3 separate regions of the Homo sapiens genome follow, and all the other regions are reported to be linked to region 3. Evidence: microRNA targets listed by miRTarBase, many of them from high-throughput screens and not tested one by one. Region 3 holds a microRNA gene; each other region holds the end of a gene's coding sequence.

Region 1 (3,259 bases), not on the chromosome of region 3:
AATGTTTATTTTTAAAAGAGCCTGTTGATTGATGTTTTAGGTAGAAGACCATGATGGAGAAGGTGATGTGGCTGGAGATGATGATGATGACGATGATGATTCACCTGATCCTGAAAGTCCAGATGATTCTGAAAGCGATTCAGAGTCAGAGAAAGAAGAATCTGCTGAAGAACTCCAAGCTGCTGAGCACCCTGATGAAGTGGAGGATCCCAAAAACAAAAAAGATGCAAAAAGCAATTATAAAATGATGTTTGTTAAATCCAGTGGTTCATAACTCCCAAACGCTTAGTCTTTGTATTAAAAGTAAGCCTTATTGTTACAATGCACAGTGGAGGACTGCTTATAGAGCACAGACCTTTGTATTATAATTTTTAAAAAGGCCCTTTTAAATAATTACAAAGAGTGTTTGCTTTCAAATGCCATGGGTTACACTTTTATGGGCATGACTATAACCATTTTTGTAAAGAGTAAGAGTTGTATAAAATAAGAAATAAATACAGTACTCAACTTCCTTTCATATTAGCATCATCAACCCTCTAATTCACCTTATGGGGGAAATGCTTCTTTTTGTTTGTGATAGCTATTTTATCATTTCCTTCATATTTTTCTCTTATAAAAATGTATTTGATACTGTGATATGTTCACGAAAAGTATTCTTTAATTATTCTTTGTTATAGTAGAGCTGTTCATTATGGATATTTCTGCTGCCAGTCACAATCTAAATTAATTTTGGCAAAAGATTGGGTACTTAGTTTCCTGTTACTGAGTTAGCTCTACTCTTTTGGACCAAAGCAACATGAGAGCAAGTACTTTTCACACTTGTTAAGATGGAGTTATAACTGTCATACATTTGGAATATTATGATCCCAAGTAGTCTTTTTATAATTTGGATTGTATCGTATGTTAGATTTTTGATAAAATTTGGCCAATTTTTACAGAAGAAATTCTCTGATCATTTAGTTCTGTCTATTTAGAAATATGTAAAACTGGATTTTTTTTTAAGTAATATGTGACCAAAGTTAATTTTGTCCCAAAGGTCTAAATAAAGAGCAGTTTCCCATATTTGGCTGTGATACCTTTATCCTCATTATCTACAAATGAGGAACAGGCTTACTGATAAGAAGCTGAAACAAGAAATTCTCTTCATTTTATCCCAGTGCTATTTTATTGATTAATTACTAAAAAGTATTACTTTCTAATTTTATTGCTGTTTCTGTTGGTGTGAGATTAGAATCATCTGACTGCTATTAGGTGGTTGATTTGTATAGCTGATTAACACAAATTGCATTATGAGCTAGTAAATGGATCTTTGGATAATGGGGTCCAAATTCTTAATGTTTATAAGTAACAAGTTCAAAGGCTTTAGTCACACCTGTTTGTGAGCTGAGCTATTATACATCTACATACTTAAAGGATGTATTTGGAGTGTTGGATTTTTTTTTTTTTTTTTTTTTTTTGAGACGGAGTCTCATTCTGTCGCCCAGGCTGGAGTGCAGTGGCGCGATCTCAGCTAACTGCAACCTCTGCCTCCCAGGTTCAAGCGATTCTCCTGCCTCAGCCTCCCAAGTAGTTGGGACTACAGTCATGTGCCACTACTCCTGGCTAATTTTTTGTATTTTTAGTAGAGTTGGGGTTTCACGGTGTTAGCCAGGATCGTCTCGATCTCCTGACCTCGTGATCCACCCACCTTGGCCTCCCAAAGTGCTGGGATTACAGGCGTGAGCCACCACGCCCAGCCTTGGAGTGTTGGAATTTTTAAAAATTATTCTTATGTCACTTTGAAATGTAGAACGTGTTGCCATGTGCGGTGGCTCACACCTATAATCCCAGCACTTTGGGAGGCCGAGGTGGCTGGATCACCTGAAGTCAGGAGTTTGAGACCAGCCTGACCAACATGGAGAAACCCCATCTCTACTAAAAATACAAAATTAGCTGGGCGTGGTGGTGCATGCCTGTAATCCCAGCTACTCAGGAGGCTGAGGCAGGAGAATCACTTGAACCCAGGAAGCGGAGGTTGCAGTGAGCCAAGATCACCCCATTGCACTCCAGCCTGGGCAACAAGAGCAAAACTCCATCTCAAAAAAAAAAAAAAAAAAAATTTAGAATGTGTTAGAGAAATTTAACAAGTAGAACAGGTGATTTCTGGTTGATAGACTCTATCTTGCAGTATATTTATTTCATGTATCAGACCCCAAAGTTGTTGCCTTGTTATTTTTTTAATTTCTCACATTTTTGAAAAATAGATGCTATCCTCTATAGTAAAATATTGAATCACTTTATAGTAGACAATACATATGACATTTAACAAATACTTGGTTTGAAAAAGTTTGGCTTTATTCAACAATTTTAGTTTGCCCACTGATTTTCAAATGTCTGTGGGATTGCTTATAACTAAGTAGAAAGTGAAGACTGATTTTTACTTAAGAATGGGATAGAGATGAGTTTTATGGTTTTTAAAAGTATTTTCAGTTCATTATTTAAATGTTGGGTTGTTGATATGGTCTTGTTTCTGATAAGGAAATAGGAGCAACTTGTTTTAAAATAACTACACTAAAAGACTTTCTTCATCTCCGTATAGAGAAATCCAGATTTCAATTAATTCATTTATTGGGTGCTAACAAAATTCAGGGTTAGAGTAAATTTAGGTCTGTTGGTCCATGTGGCCTGGTTTCCTAGCACCCATTAAACATAATGCTATCTTTTAAGCCTGAACATGTGGGTTTTTTAAATCAAATTGGAAAAAAATTAGACAACTGATGTCATGCTGTCTTGGTATCCATACTAAAAAAGTATCAGGAAAATAGATTATTTTTGTGCTGTGAAACACTATTCAGTGGAAAGTTTAGTGGCAACTTTTCCATATCATTCATGACTTAATACCTGAAATGCACTTTTAAATGTTTGCCTTATATCCAAGTGTTTACTTGTATCCATGACCTAACCGTCTATTGAAAAGAATGTTTGCAGATGCAGATTGCAATGTTGTTTGTATTCATAGGCAAAAGTCCTCTTCTCTAGTATAATTTTTTAAATCTGAGAGAATTGAAGGTACAGAAAAAAATTCTGGAGTGCCTGAACCACAGTTTGAGAGCACAAAGGTCACATTCTTTCAGTAAATTTGGGGGAAATAAATTTCAGCTACCTGGTTAGCTTCAGTGACTACTTACACACAGGGCTTTGGTTCCATTACTTGTTTCCACCACAGCCACATCCTAAATACTTGGAATATCCGAAAACAACTTCTAAAATCACTCAATAA
Region 2 (3,259 bases), not on the chromosome of region 3:
TTTGTATTTTTAGTAGAGACGGGGTCTCTCTATGTTGGTCAGGCTGGTCTTGAACTCCCAATCTCAGGTGATCTGCCCACCTTGGCCTCCCAAAGTGATGGGATTACAGGCGTAAGCCACTGCACCCAGCAAAAGCCACCTATTTAGATGCTCAACTTCCAAGCAACTGAGATGAGATAAAACTGAGAAGCTTATGAGACTACTGAGCAAGAGGAAAAGGTGACACTGAGGAGCTGTATGAGAAAACAGTGATTTCAAACACAAAACAGTATTAGTGTGGCTAAGTTGCAAATAACAGAAAACTCAACTCTAACTCGTTTGACAGATGTTTATTGGCTCACATAGCTGAAAAGTTCTGAGGTAGCTCTGCTTCAGGTAAAGCTTGGTCTAGTGGCTCAAAAGATGTCACCAAGGACCTAGTTTCTCTCTGTTTAGTCACTGTTTTCTTTGGTATTGGCTTTATCCTTAGGCTCCATATGGTAGCACCTGGAAGCTTGAGAATCTCCCCTTTTAACAGAAAAAAAAAGTTGCTATAATTCTAGGTCTCACATTTTCCTATGTGCCACACAGAGGACAGATAATATCTCCTCTGGTAGCTCTCGATGAAGAAAAGCCTCTCTTTTCCAGAAGAGCCAGTATCTCCTCATATCACAATGGCTCTGTGGCCAAGGGGATGGGATAAACTGATTGACACAAGCCAAACAGGGTCCACTCATGAAGATGGTGGTGGTGCCAAACCACATAGCTGAGAAAGGATAGCTTCCCAAAGAATACCCGGGTAACTGTTCCCAGAGAGAAGGGGAAGAGATGATGGAAACCAATAAAAGATGACCACGTCTAAAAATGTTGTTTTATAAAACTCCTGATTTCAAGTAGAATTAGTTAATTCTATAATTCTTTACTTTCCTGTGTAGACGCTACATGTTCCTCGTGTTTGTTTTATCTTTGGTCCTGGACCTAGGGAGGGCATTTCTGGCTCTGATGCCAATACTGGATTATGTGAAAACTTTTCAACTATTGACTGGATGAAGCTATCTAACAAAGCATTAACCACCACCAGAAAGTGACCATTTCTCCCTCCCTTGGCAGTGGCCTCACAGCTTATCAGAATGTAGACTATCATGGTAGTGAGGGATGGACAGACTGGAAGAGGATTTAGGATAGGAAGCAATGAGAGGGCTGGAACTATATAAATTTTTATGAAAAAAAATCTCCAGTTGAGTTTACATATTCCCAATCCCAGAATGATATCTCATAAAACAAAGGCAATGAGGTCTCTTAAGACCTGGATTGGCCAGGCGTGGTAGCTGAGGCCTGTAATCCCAGCACTTTGGGAGGCCGAGACAGGTGGATCACAAGGTCAGGAGATCGAGACCAGCCTGGCTAACATGGTGAAACCCCGTCTCTACTAAAAATAAAAAATATTAGCCAGGCATGGTGGCGGGCACCTGTAGTCCCAGCTACTTGGGAGGCTGAGGCAGAAGAATGGCATGAACCCAGGAGGTGGAGCTTGCAGTGAGCTGAGATAGCACCACTGCACTCCAGCCAGAGCAACAGAGTGAGACTCTGTCTAAAAAAAAAAAAAAAAAAAAAAAGACCTGGATTACCCTCTGCTGTTTCCCTAAATTACTTTGGTGGCCTCAAAAGGAAAGCAACTTCTGAAGAAAAGGTCTTAGAGTTCACAATTTAACTGCAATGTTGCTTCCATCAAATAAGGTTTTCAGTGAGACAGAATTATGAAAAGCAATACTAATAAACACTTGTATACAAAGAGTATCTACAGAGATACACAACCAGTAGCAGTGATTGCCTCTGGGGAGAACTCAAGAGATAGGAATGACAAGGAAATTTACTTTTCACTGAACACCCTTTTCAACTATTTCAATTCTTTTTTATCATGAGCATGTTATATCTAGTCAAAGATTAATGTTTCAGGATTTGAAAAACATAAAAGAAATGTACTGTTGGTCCTCAGAGTCATTTAGCTGGGGTTAAGATTAAAAGACATGAGACTATTAGAAAAATATAAGATGGCACATAATTAAATACTAACTTGGGTGGTACTGATTACAAGTAGAAGAGGAAGAGAGATCTTCTTAGTTGAAGGAGCTAGATCTGAGTGATGAAGGGAAACTAAAAGCACAGGAAAATAAGCAAATAAAAATGGGCAGAGACATAAATATGTACAATTAAGTAAAGAACAGTAAACTCTGCAGTCAGATAGGCCTGGCTCCAATTTCAACTCTATAACTTACTAACTGAGCAACCCTGAATGAGTTTTATAACCTCTTTCAACTCAGATTTCTCATTTGTAAAATGGGGAGAAGAGCACCTACCTTAATAGGATTGTTATGCAAATTAATGTATGTAAAGTGGTTAGCACCTGATACAGAGTAGCTGCCCAACTAAATGATGCCTTGTTAAAACATCATAGAACAGAGGGACCAGTCTTGCTAGAGTACATGGTAAATGTTCAAAAGGGCAAGATAATACTGGCTATTTAAGTTAAGGGTTACAGCAAATTGTGAATGGTCATCTCATTTTGTCTCTAGGGTTCCTGCAGCATAAGAATTATAAACAAGTATCACCATTATGCACTCTCTAATGTTCAAGAAGGTGAGAGATCTGACAGTTATAGGGTTTGTCTCTAGCATGGCGCCTCTGGTGCTTAATTAAGACAGAATTCTGACTGAAGGCCTTCCCACAGTCATTACATTTATAGGGTCTTTCCCCAGTATGGATTCTTTGATGTCGAATAAGATGTGCCTTGCAAAAGAAGCTTTTCCCACAGTCAGTACATTCATGAGGCTTGTCCCCAGTGTGGACCCTCTGGTGCTGAGAAAGATCTGAGTTCCACATGAAGCCCTTCCCACAGTCCTTACATTCGTAAGGCTTCTCCCCAGTGTGCATTCTCTGATGTCGAAGAAGGGCTGGGTTTCGAGTAAAGCTTTTCCCACATTCCTTACATGTGTATGGTTTCTCACCAGTGTGGATCCGTTGATGTTGCGTAAGGCTTGTGTTCTGACTAAAGCCCTTCCCACATTCCTTACATTCAAAGGGTTTCTCTCCAGTATGTATTCTCTGGTGACGAATCAGGTTTGACTTCCAAACAAAGGCCTTAGCACATTCTTGACATTCATAGGGTTTCACCCCACTGTGAATTCTCTGATGTGCAATGCAATGTGATCGAAAACTGAAAGCCTTCCCACATTCCTTACATCCATAGACCTTCTCTCCATTATGAGTTTTCTGGTGTTGA
Region 3 (3,259 bases):
CGTGATCCACTGGCCTCAGCTTCCCAAAGTGCTGGGATTACAGGCGTGAGCCACTGCGCCCGGCCCATTCAATCATTTTTACATGCGTGTAACACAGTATTGAGAAATACAGCATTGAGGCTGGGTGCAGTGGCTCATGCCTGTAATCCCGGTACTTTTGGAGCCGGAGGTGGGTGGATCGCTAGATCCCAGGAATTGGAGACCAGCCTGGACAACATGGCACAGCCCAGTCTCTACAAAAATACAAAGATTAGCCAGTCGTGGTGATGTGCACCTGTAGTCTCAGCTACTCAGGAGGCCTAGGCAGGAGGACGGCTTGAGCCCGGGAGGTGAAGGTTGCAGTGAGCCGAGATTGTACCACCACACTCCAGCCTGGGTGAGAGTGAGACCCTGTCTTAAAAAAAGAAAAAAGTATTAAAATTCTTGATCAACTCATGTAATCACATAAGTGGTGGTTGTGGATGGTAAAAAGTTTTTTTAACAGCTCAACTTATAATTGTTGGGTGAAACAGATGCAGAAATTTGAGAAGTGTTGTGTTATTTCTGTGTCACGTAGCATCACTAAATGATATCCACGCCTCGTCATAAGTATAAGTAGGATCATAATAAATACAAAAACCTGCAGAGGGCACCGACGTTTTCAGCTGGCTTTCATACCCGATCTAGGGGGCTTCTCAAGCAGGGGAGAGCTAACTGAGAGAGCTCGCCAGAGCGGTTCTAGCTCAAGCCAGTGTGCACTGCCTAGGATGGGGCACGCCCCACCCTGTGCTCACAGAATAACACACGCAGCCACCTTCCAGGGAGTTCGGACATGAAAGCGTGACCTAAGTCTGTGGCCCAAGGTGGCCTCCCAGTTGTTAAAATTTGGTATATAACTTAGGGTTCAAGGGCTGTTTTCAAATTGTGGTTTAAAAACACAGTTACGTCAACATAATGAAAATGTGCCTTAAACTTCTGTTGAACCCTCCAAAGAACACTCACCCCCAACTCTTGAGAGCAGTGTTGTTCAGATCTTAGCATGCATCAGATTAAGCATGCTAAATTCTCAAAATTTACTGTGCAGCCACCTGGCTAATTTGTTAAAATGCAGATTCCTGGACCCCACCCAGAGATGCTGATGTAGCAAGTCTGGGGTGGGGCCTAAGAATGTGCATTCCTAACAAGCTCCCATTGATGCTGATGCTGCCGGTAGCAAGATTCACATTCAACGGTTTGGAAACTCTTTGACCAGAGAAGATATCTTTGGGGTTATTCTTACTTTAAATAGGGGCACAGTGGCTTCCTCTAGGTCTCCCACCTCTCATCTGAGACATGAAGAGATTGGATTAGAAACTTTCCTAGAATCCTACAAGCTTGGAAGTGCTTCTCTCTCTGCCTGGTAAGAAGGAACTTCCAGGCTGGGTGTGATGGCTCATGCCTGTGATCTTAGCACTTTGGGAGACTGAGGCAGGAGGATCACTTGAGCCCAGGAGTTAGAGACCAACCTAGGCAACACAGTGAGACCCCATCTCTACAAAAACTAAGAAAAACAATTAGCCTGGTATGGTGGTGGGTATCTGTGGTCCCAGTTACTCAAGAGGCTGAGGCAGGAGGATTGCTTGAGCCCAGGAGGTCAGGGCTGCAGTGAGTTGTGACTGCACCACTGCACTCCTGCCTAGGTGACAGAGCAAGATCCTGCCTCAAAAAAAAAAAAAAAAAAAAAAGACTTTCACAGGTAACTCAACTCAGATTTCTCACATGCATCTGGTCAGATACACAAAGGGGAGCCCTAGATGTAGGTAGAATCAGACCTGCCTTTTTCAGGGAAAAAAATCAGACCTGTGGCATTTCAGGGAAACCACTTACCTCCCTCTCCTCAGTTTCCCCATCTATCACATCAACTCACTAATCTCCTTCCTGCCTCCTCACAGGGATGATGGATCTGAAAATGTGTGAGAAATGACACACCACTGTCTGTACACATGTAAGGAGCTGTTGTAATCAATATCTTTGAAATGCTTATTCATGCAAAACAGGATATTTCAGGTCTCCAAATTCTTCAGCGAGAACTTCGAGATGCAGCTGGGTTCTTGAAGTTCAGCTGCAGAGCAGAACTTGCTCTTAGGCCACTGGGGTTCCTCCCCAGGCCACCCTGGGGCTTCCTCCTCCCTTTATGTAGATGTGATGAGTCCCAGATTACCCCACTTCTTGGATCCTGTTTGGGTGCAGAGATTTGGCCTTAATCTTCTCTCTTTCCTGGAGTTGCACTTTGCCTGAAGTGCAAAGAGCCCCATTCATGATTTGATCTCCTGGCTCCTGCATGGCCAGTGGGGGCCCAAGCTGCCACAACGCAGGAAGATGGCTTGATGATGCTGCTGATGCTGGCGGTGATCCCGATGGTGTGAGCTGGAAATGGGGTGCTACGTCATCGTTGTCATCGTCATCATCATCATCCGAGCAGCCACCAGATAGCTTGCACCCACGCTGGGCTGGGCACGAGACTGGCTGTTTGTCATAGTTTGTCTTTCGACCTCATGGCAGCCCTTTAAGGTAAGTATCATCATCCCCATTTTACAGATGAGGAAACCGAAGCTCAGAAAGAATCAGTAACTGGCCCAGGGTCACACTACTACTAAATGTGTACGCATATGAAATGCAGAGTCTTCAGGGCACTGGCTGGCAGTCTGGCAGTCCCACATCCCTCACCCACCATATGTGGCCTCTCAGGGTTTGGCTAGTACATTAGTATCACACCGCAGGAGAAGCCCAGCTTATGCATCACTGTGAGGGAACAGGCAAGGCTGGCCGGTATGGATGGAGATGGGTGTGCTGGGTGGGGACAGAGCACAGAGCAGACCTGGCCATGGTAAATGTTGCACACACCCACTTCCAACCCATCACCCCTTCCCCATCAGAGGCAGGAGGGAGGTAAGAGAATGGACAGGCCTAGGGAGGGGCAGCTGTCCCAGCAGGGGCCTGACAGTCATGTGCTGGTATCTTTAGGGGACTGAGCTTAGGGACAAAGTTGTCTCCCATTCCATCTAGTTTTAAGCTGCTGTCAGGCTGACCTGTCTAAGGTGCATGTCACTCCCTTCCTGGAAAGCCTGCCATGGCTCTCTGTTGCCCATAGAGTAAAAGCCAATCTTACCTGCCTAGCTTCAGGTACCCATATTCTCTGGCTCCCCCATCCTTGTGCTTCATGTGGTACATTTCACCTGGAGCTCTAGACACATGCAGCTTCTTCCCCTTCCCCATAAATGTCCTGGACATTTTGCCTTGT

Evidence for each region. Region 3 holds the annotated microRNA hsa-miR-1322 (GAUGAUGCUGCUGAUGCUG, at 2,345-2,363, shown strand). A microRNA usually pairs through its seed, bases 2 to 8, with sites in the 3' UTR of a target mRNA and lowers its output. Matches are read on the target gene's strand: a 7mer-m8 pairs with bases 2 to 8, a 7mer-A1 pairs with bases 2 to 7 and ends in A, and an 8mer does both.
Region 1: miRTarBase lists C11orf58 as a target of hsa-miR-1322. Seed matches in the 3' UTR shown: 7mer-m8 at 523-529.
Region 2: miRTarBase lists ZNF662 as a target of hsa-miR-1322. Seed matches in the 3' UTR shown: 7mer-m8 at 2,410-2,416.

Annotation. Positions count from the first base shown.
Region 1 is chr11:16,754,831-16,758,089 of GRCh38, forward strand. It overlaps C11orf58 (chromosome 11 open reading frame 58), which reads left to right. Exons shown (of 5, transcript NM_014267.6): 5 at 41-3,259. The coding sequence ends at 274. Among named protein-coding and RNA genes, the nearest start is that of C11orf58, 18 kb to the left of the region's middle.
Region 2 is chr3:42,914,697-42,917,955 of GRCh38, reverse strand. It overlaps ZNF662 (zinc finger protein 662), which reads right to left. Exons shown (of 5, transcript NM_207404.4): 5 at 1-3,259. The coding sequence ends at 2,602. Among named protein-coding and RNA genes, the nearest start is that of ZNF662, 10 kb to the right of the region's middle.
Region 3 is chr8:11,034,384-11,037,642 of GRCh38, reverse strand. MIR598 (microRNA 598) reads left to right here and starts at 2,341; the gene lies at 2,341-2,437. The region is part of intron 1 of XKR6 (XK related 6); the gene reads left to right.